Homo sapiens: one gene and its partner. The protein of the gene in region 2 purifies or fractionates together with the protein of the main gene of each other region. This does not show direct contact. Each region holds a gene or a part of one and is shown on either strand. Other genes may lie near its edges.

Evidence for each region.
Region 1: the proteins of TPTE2 (region 2) and IFFO1 purify together in Homo sapiens (affinity purification with mass spectrometry; 2 studies listed by BioGRID and IntAct, with this or other methods). This does not show direct contact.

What each region holds. Positions count from the first base shown.
Region 1 is NC_000012.12:6,538,529-6,543,222, reverse strand, and holds the end of IFFO1 (non-homologous end joining factor IFFO1), read left to right. Parts: intron 1-1,369; coding exon of another isoform or gene 1,370-1,450; exon of another isoform or gene 1,451-1,573; intron 1,574-1,580; coding exon 1,581-1,711; intron 1,712-2,634; coding exon 2,635-2,740; 3' UTR 2,741-3,684; downstream 3,685-4,694. UniProt on the Homo sapiens protein: Nuclear matrix protein involved in the immobilization of broken DNA ends and the suppression of chromosome translocation during DNA double-strand breaks (DSBs).
Region 2 is NC_000013.11:19,558,733-19,562,819, forward strand, and holds the start of TPTE2 (phosphatidylinositol 3,4,5-trisphosphate 3-phosphatase TPTE2), read right to left. Parts: upstream 2,801-4,087; 5' UTR 2,702-2,800; exon of another isoform or gene 2,607-2,701; intron 398-2,606; 5' UTR 296-397; intron 1-295. UniProt on the Homo sapiens protein: Acts as a lipid phosphatase, removing the phosphate in the D3 position of the inositol ring from phosphatidylinositol 3,4,5-trisphosphate.

The DNA of each region.
Region 1 (4,694 bases), on a different chromosome or scaffold from region 2:
CCCAAGGTGCCTTTATCTTTGTGACCTTTGATCTCTCAGGGTCACTAAGATGGAGCAAGGTAAAGCCAAGGCCCAGAGTGGTGGGCGGGAGGCAGTTCTTCCCCACCGCTCCTCACCTCTCTCTGTCTCCTCCCGTCCCACCCCCAAGTCTGTTCACACAGCGAGCCTGCAGTTTTCAAGGTGGCTTGTCAAGGACATCTCCTGACATGCACGTTCACCTCCTGACCTTGTTCCTGCTGTAAATTTGTGAATTAAGTGGGGACATAGACATATGCAGAGACTACTGGTGGCAGTACTAGCCTTGTATTTCAGTAGAATATATTTGGTTCATTTCCTTCTTCCCAGTCTCCCTGAGTGATGGTTCCAGAACCCAGCTCCCTGCACTCCGGTTCTTCCAAGGTGGAGAAATTGGGGTGTAGGCAGCTGATCTGAACAAGGGCTGGTGGCACTGTATTTTCCCCCTGGGTTGAACAGTCACCGTGTCCTGCTCCTCCCACTACTGTGGGGCCCCAGCTGTGGATCCAAGCCTGCCAGGGAAGCTGTCCCCACTAGGGCTTCTCACCCAGCCAGCCGCCATCTCACCCCAAATGTCACTGTCCTGACCATCTCTGCTGTCTGGCCCTGTAACCTGTTTCCTTCTTTCTCTAAGTTCCCACCCTCTCTGTCCAATCCACATTATGGCAGCTGGTATCCTCCCCGTTCTCTTCACTCAGGCAGTCACGAACGTCATCTCCAGGAAGTTTCATTTTGCTTCCCCTTGCGGCCCCTGCCCTTTGTACCCAAAACAAAGAGAGGCAGTCGACTGTCCCTGGCACTGAGTTTGTGCTGCCTGGGCCCTGCCTCTCCGCCTGCCTCAGAGTGTGGGCTGCAGAATGGGCCCGGGGAGGGAGACCGGATTTCTTTGATTCTGAGCCCCGTGTTTTCCACGTGTGACATTTCTGAAATCAGGACAGGTCTCAGAATCAATGGCACCTCCAATATGGGAGTCTTCCTTTTAGTGTCTGAAAATGGCTTTTAGGTGAGAAAATAAAGTGATAAGGAGAGAATGGTAAGAGGATTGGGCCCCTTTCAGCAGTTAGCCAGGCTTGTATGCCACGGGTCACAGAGAGAGTTAATTCCCTTCGAGGTCTGGGTCTGCCAGGATGAGGAAAACCTGTCGCTAACCCTTACGGGAGCTCACAGTGCAGTGAGGGGACAGCCCAGGACCAGCGCAGTACAGGGGATGAGGGGTGAGCCGGGCCCCATAGGAACCTGTGTGGCCCTGGGAGCCTGTGGATCTGCTCCATCCCGCCCACACTGACTTTCCTCACCACTCTTATCAGTCTTAAAAGAACACAGCCTGCAGCAGTACCTTTGCATTCCTCCATAGGCAAAGATTTCCAGGAAAAGCAGAGGAAACAATGGTGTATTCGCTGCCTTCTGCCTTGGTCTGGTTTATTTTAAAATCTGAGCCTTCAGTAATGGCTGCCTGGGCCCCCGGCCCAGCCACTGCTCTTGGCGTGTTGGCCTCCTGGCGGGGGCAACAGAGGCGCTGTGAACGCCACCTGTTAACCCCGATGGCCCTGCCTGCCCCACCACAGCTGGAGTTGGCCACGGCCAAGAACGACATGAACCGGCACCTGCACGAGTACATGGAGATGTGCAGCATGAAGCGCGGCCTGGACGTGCAGATGGAGACCTGCCGCCGGCTCATCACCCAGTCTGGAGACCGGTAGGCGCCTCCCCTGGGCATGGGGCCTTCCAGGGGGACACAGCGGGGAGAAAGGTTGGAACACAGCCCCAGAGACCCTCAGGCAATGACTGGGTCACATCTTGCTGTGGGGCTGCCCTTTGGGAGTTACCTGGTGGGGCTGGCCCAGACCCACAGCTCTCTCCCTTGGCAGTTGGATGAGCTATGTCCATTCATGACGGGAGGGCTGAAACCTCCCAAGGCCACCAGCTCTGGTGGTTCCCCTGGTTAGAGGCAGTTTAAAAACTGGCAAGGAACAGAAGGGTTGTGGGGGCAGATTTTTATCTAAAGTCAGGGCCATGATTTGTGCATTTGACCCTGTGTAAGTTACACCGCAACAAGAAAGTGAATTTTTAAAAATCACAAAAATACTGCAGATAGACATAAAGCCAAGGCCCTAGAGTCAGGGTGCTGGAGGCTCAGCAGCTTCTCTCCTACTGTGACTTCAGCTATTTCTTTTTTTTTTTTTTTTGGCTCACTACAACCTCCGCCTCCCAGGTTCAAGTGATTATCTTGCCTCAGCCTCCAAGGCGCCCGCCACCACACCTGGCTAATTTTTGCATTTTTAGTAGAGATGGGGTTTCACCATGTTGGCCAGGCTTGCCTTGAACTCCTGACGTCGTGATCCACCCGCCTCTGCCTCCCAAAGTGCTGGAATTACAGGCGTGAGCCATCATGCCTGACCTCAGCCTCTGAGTTCCCAAGACACAGGCGGGGCCCATTTCCCTGTCAGGGTGGGTTTGGAGAGAGTTCAGTCCCTGCCGCTCCCTCGCCATCCCGCGGCCCCGCCCTCGCTTCCGGTACTTCTCACGGGCTGCCAGAGGGTGAGGCAGCAGGAGGAGGAGTGCCGTCCGTCTTCAGGATTCCTGCCTGCCCCAAGGTTGACAACTGGTGTTTTTTTCTAGAAAGTCTCCTGCTTTCACTGCGGTCCCGCTTAGCGACCCGCCGCCGCCGCCAAGCGAGGCTGAGGACTCCGATCGCGATGTCTCATCTGACAGCTCCATGAGATAGAGACCTGCCTCCCCCTTGCACCCGAGGCCCTCGCAGCAGGGAGCTCAGCGAGGCAGAGGGTGGGGCTGCACAGAGGGGAACATCAGCTGCAGCTCTGCACCAGGCCGGTCCCTGGGGACTGGGGCGCTCCTCCCTCAGGCTTTCTCCCTCAGTCTTGGCTTCTCCAGGGCTCTGGGGTGTCTGGAGCTAGGCTTGGCCCTACCATTCTGGGGCCATTTCCACCACAGTTGGGGCTCTCCTGCCTTCACGCGTGGGTGTCTGCTACTTCCCCATCTTTAAAATGCTGCCAGAGCGATTGCGGCCCCTCACCTTGTCCACGTATCAGGAATGTGAATGTGGGACCTTTCCTCCATCCCTGTTGTCCGGAGCCAGCTCACTGTCTTCCACACTGGTGCTAACTGGCCCAGGCACTGGAGTGGAATAGAATGCAGCTGGAGGCTACGCATGGCCTCTGCAGCACACGCAGCTGGAGAGGGCTTCTGTCCCTGTCAGCGGCAGAGGGCGTTGGGGCTGGCCGGGGCACCTTGTCCCTGCTATGGTCCACGTGCTCACGCTGTCCACCTGCCAGGTGGAGTGTATGTGGCTGTGGCCCTCCCTCGTGGAGGTGCCGTGCTTTAAAGAGGCCTTAGTGCCCGGGATGGGCACAGTGTTTTGAAGGGAGGTGGGAGCTCTTGCTCTCCTGGTCACTGCAGAATGACAGAGAAGGTGAAGCTCCATGCATGTGTGCGCGGGTGTATGTGCGCTCAGGGTCTCTGTTTAAGTATCAGCTAAAGATGTGCTTCCTCCGTGTCTGTCATACACTGAGACCAACAGGCTACAGTGTCCCTGATTCTTGGAAAAGCCTGGAGAAGCTGGGGAGATGCGGTTCACAATGCCTCGGTATAGGAGGCTGTGTTGAGCTGACATTCAAATGGATTCTTTAATAATAATGAAACTGGCGAGTATTTATTGTGCACTTTGGTGTCACTGTCTCAAGCACTTCCTAATATTCACTAGTTTGAACTCTGAGGTAGGTACTTTTTTTTTTTTTGAGATGGAGTCTCATACTCTGTTGCCTAGGCTGGAGTGCAGTGGTGTGGTCTCAGCTCACTGCAGCCTCTGCCTCCGGGGTGCAAGCGATTCTCCTGCTTCAGCATGCCTGTAGCTGGGACTATAGGCATGTGCCATGAAGCCTGGCTGATTTTTGTAATTTTAGTAGAGACGGAGTTTCACCATGTTGGCCAGGCTGGTCTCAAACTCCTGACCTCAGGTGATACACCCACCTTGGCCTCCCAAAGTGCTGGGGTTACAGGCGTGCGCGCTCTACCGAGGTATGTACTTTTGTCTCCACTAGGTAAGCACACGTGCAAAGTGAGGCCCGGGAGTAACTGCCCAAAGCAACTGAGCCGTTCAGTGGCAGAGCCAGGGGTCTGGACCTAGGTCCCAGCTACACGCCTTGCCCCTACCCAAGTTCCCCTAAGGACGATGATGGAAATAAGTCACCCTGACACATCTCAGTTCATCTTCCTCAAAACTATGCGAGGTGGGCATTTTTACCGATTTTTAAACATTATATAGTCCTTACCGCCTTGGGCATGGTTTTAGGTACTTGGTTTACCTAGATGAATCCTGCTTGAAGACCTTAGGGGCTGGCCACGATGTCCTCAGATAAGACACGAGGGCACAGAAAGCAATAGAGCACGTGCTCAAGACCTCACAGCTGCGGAGGCCAAGCTGGAATTGCCCGCTGCAGCTCAGCTCCAGGCTGAGCTCCACTAACCAGTCAGCGTCAGAGCCCAGTGCGAGCCCTGACTTCCTCCACCTGTCAGCCTCCCTGGGGCTGCCCACAGAATAGCTTCTTCCATGTTTGGCCAACAGCAGATAGCCTAGGACTGGAGCGAGGAGAGGAAAAGGCCTTGTTCTCTGAAGTAGTGGTGCCAGCTTCCTGTAGCACTCAAGACGTCTGAGCGGGAAG
Region 2 (4,087 bases):
AGTGCTTTAAATCAGAAAACAAGAATTAGCTAGCTTACACATTCCACTGAATAGTGTCAAAAAAGATAAACGTATTTAAAATAAGTTGTAAGTCCAGCAAATATAAGCTTGATGGGTTAACTAACATATTAAGTAATTACAAAGATTCATTTTTTTACAAACTTTTAAACTATTTTAATAAAATGGCTATAGACCTCACTGTACTTCTATTTATCTGTGCATTAATAAAAACCTGTTAAAATTCCTTATTTAGTACTTCTGAAAAAGTCTAGTCAAATAAGATCACTAAAATTACCAGAAAAGCTTTGAAATACTGATTGCAGATTCATTTCAAAGTAGATTTAACACATTTCAGGATCTGGTGTTTAAATCATGAATGTCTTCACCAGCGTCAACTCTGAAAATATAAAAATTTTAGTCAGTGCTGGCTGTAACAGTACTGGCATTACTTGAAAAAATAGAAATAAAAAATACATTGTCAATCATGCATTCCACAATTTTCTTTTTGAGCTCGATAGTATATATATTTTTTCTCATTAAAGATTCAAAACCAAAAGTGGTTTCTCTTTGCAGCAAATATACATTAAAATAGAGTCTCTGTACAGCCAAGGGCTCTGGGCCCTGGCTTGCCCCATGTCTCTGCGCCTCCCTGGCCAAACCCAAAAATAAATATAGTGTTATTGTTCTGCAGGGCATAGAGGCAGTGCTCTCCTACCCCCGAGGAGGCTGGGTGGGAGCTGATGGGGAAGCCCTGGCCACCCCAGGGGTCCAGGGGCTGGAGCCTGCTTGGAGTTATTGCTTCAAGGCCGGGCACTAATGCCCAATGCAAATGATGAGAGGAGGAGCAAAGGGAGCATGGGCCTTTGCTCTCCAAGTCCCACTCTGCTCTGAAGAGGGGGTAGGATTAAGCAGCAGCAAAAGCATCACCCACTGGGAGACTGTGGCCTGCACCCCCTTCCCTCCCTGAGATAGGCTTCTGCCTCCCACACATCCCCTGCAGCCCCCTGTGGCTTCGGCAAGGCCCCCTACACTCTTGGGGCACGCTATGGCTTGCAAGGGGCAGCACTGTGCCCAGAGCCCGGACACACGTTTCCAGCTTCTGACATCCCCTAGGAGGGGGGAGGGGAGGGAGTGGGGCCTGCTCCCAGGGGCTGATGGCATTGCCCTGGCCCTGCCAGCAGGCTGTGGCACTGCCCAGACCCCAGCTCCGCCCCAGCCCTTGGGGCTGACCCCATGCTAGGCAGGTCCTGCCAGAACCCCCACCAGTCCCACCCCTCGCCTCAGTCCATCATGGCCTCGAGCATCTCCAAGAACAGCTTGTGCATGGGCACCTTGCCCTCCAGCTTCACCCCATAGAAATGGGCCAGCACTTTGCCCGCTGTCTGGTGGAGGAGCGGTAGCGTGAACAGCAGCCTGCCTGGCCGCCGCCGCTCAGCACCCCCTCCGGTGCCAGCTCGGCCGGCTTCATACTCCAGCAGGGCCTCGTGCGGAGCTTCTGGCAGCTGCTCCACAGCCTCGGCATCTTCGATGGGCACAGAGTCTGAATTGGCAAGGGCCAGGGCCTTCAGTAGAACGTACTCCCCTCGCTCCAGCCGCAGGGACTGCAGCCGCCGCACCAGTTGCAGCAGGGCAGCCCCCAGTTCCCCCAGGCCAGCTGCCCGTGCCCCCTCTTCATCCAGGACTAAGTCCTCAGCGAAGGCCAACTCATCCTGCAGTGGCAGTGAGCGCTGGGCCACACCCGGCACCAGCACCTCCATTCATACTCTCTGCAGTACTGACATCTGGTCAGACAGCGACAGCGATGAGAAGCCTGGGATGCTCTTGGCCCAGCTGATGGTGACCACGATCTCTCGGTCAAAGAGGTCACAGAGGGTAGCCACGGCTGGAAGGTGCCCATCAGGGCCAGCAGGGTCGGGCAAGGCATAGAGCTTCTCAGGCTCAACCACCATTAGATGAGACACCAGTGCATTCACTGGGCCTGTCGTCTGGGGGCCTCCAGCGACTGCCAGGGGCCCAGCAGGGAAGGCGCCCGGGAAGGGCAGCGGGTCCACCTCTGGCACCGCTTGTACTCCCGCCCACCCCGGACGCGGTCCAGGCGCGCTCCCGCAGGCTCTTGGTGAAGCGGCAGGCCTGACAGGCCTTGCGTCTCCGCTTGGTGATCTCACACTCGTTGGAGGCCAGACAGCTGTACTCCATACTCCCCTGGATGGTCCTCTTGAAGAAGGCTTTGCAGTCCTCACAGGATGACACACCGCAGTGGTAGCCGGAGGCCACGTCCCCACAGACCAGGCAGAGGCGCTTGGACAGGGAGCTGAGCACCAGCTTCCCACCGCCCTGCTCGCCAGGCCCAGCCCCCTCCCCATCCTCCTCTTCCTTGTGGCCTGGGAGGCAGTGGGTGGGAGCTGGACCAGGGGCCAGGGCCACAGGAGGCTCGGGTCTCTGTCTCCGAGGAGCCCTTTGGACTGTCAGGCCTGGCCGGCTCTGCCATGATGTAGTGGCTCACTGCCCACCACCTGGCTGGACATGGCGCTGGTCACCTGACACGCGGCTGCCCTCCTGCCCCAGCATGCCGATCCCAGGCACACGGCGGGGGCCGCTCCACCTCCTCGCGACCGGCCTGCAGGTCCACTCTAATATTCCCGCTGTCGCAGACGCCGCCACCTCCCGGGGCGCCGCGCCCCGCCCCCCAACCTAAGCACACCTTTGGGAAGTTGCCTAAAGTTGCTACGCCTCCCCGCAAGCCCCGACGCCCGCGGGAGACCGCTACCAGGTTATCAGGAAGTAAGTGGGGAGAGCCAAGGAAGAGGAAGTTCTTCCCGGCCGTTGCGATGACCTTTGACCCAGAGAGGAGGGTGGCCCCAGGCCCCTTCGAGCGCCCCCACGTGGTCTTCAGAGCCCCTTTCCCGACATAGAGACTTCCCCGTCTTCCACCCCGGCCAGCCCCAGGGACTTCGGCAAGCGAGGGATTGAACCCTGCCCCGGGGCGGGCTGGATCGGAGGCCCAACCCTGACCCGGGCCAGGACCCGCAGCCAGAGCCAGATCTTGCCCCAGGCCGGCCCACCAGAACTCGGACGCCAGATCCCGCCTGAACCCTGACCAGTCCGGACCTCGACTGGGCCCCGACCGTGGCCCAGACTGGCCCCAGAGCCGGCCCCCGCCTGGAGCCCGCCCTGCCCTCCTCCCTGCTGCCTCATCACACAATTTCAAGAACTAAGTGGCCGGAAGCGGTGGCTCACGCCGGTAATCCCAGCAGGCCAAGGTGGGCGGATCACGAGGTCATGAGATCGAGACCATCCTGGCTAACACGGTGAAACCCCGTCTCTACTAAAAATACAAAAAAACAAAAATTAGCTGGGCGTGGTGGCGGGCGCCTGTAGTCCCAGCTACTCGGATGCTGAGGCAGGAGAATGGCATGAACCCGGAAGGCAGAGCTTGCAGTGAGCCAAGATCCCGCCACTGCACTCCAGCCTGGGCAACAGAGCAAGACTCCGTCTCAAAAAAAAAAAAAAAAAGAAAAGAAAAGAAAAAAGAAAACAAAACAAAACAAAAAACTAAGATATGTAACTATAAATATTGTTATGTCTTTGCAGGTTATCTCAACTTCCATCAGGCCTCAGCTGAAAGCTCATCTGCCAAAACGCATCAGCACTCATGTAAAATAAAAGGAGTAGGGAGGTGACTTTGTACACATACTGTCCAGTGTTTGGCTGCCAGTTTCCCTCTTGTGTGTAACTATTCTAGGTATGACTCCTTGAGCATGAAATGAGGGGTAGATAGAACAGCACAGCTGTTGGGCTAACAAGAATTGGTGTGTAGACTGGGCACAGTGGCTCACCAGTGTAGTCCCAGCACTTTGGGAGGCCAGGGCAGGAGGATCACCTGAGGTCAGGAGTTCAAGACCAGCCTGGCCAACATGGTGAAACCCTGTCTCTATTAAATATACAATTATTAGCTCTCTATTAAAAATACAAAAATTAGGCTGGGTGTGGTGGCTCACGCCTGTAATCCCAGCACTTTGGGAGGCCGAGGCAGGTGGATCACGAGGTCAGGAGTTCAAGGCCAGCCTGGCCAAGATGCTGAAACCCT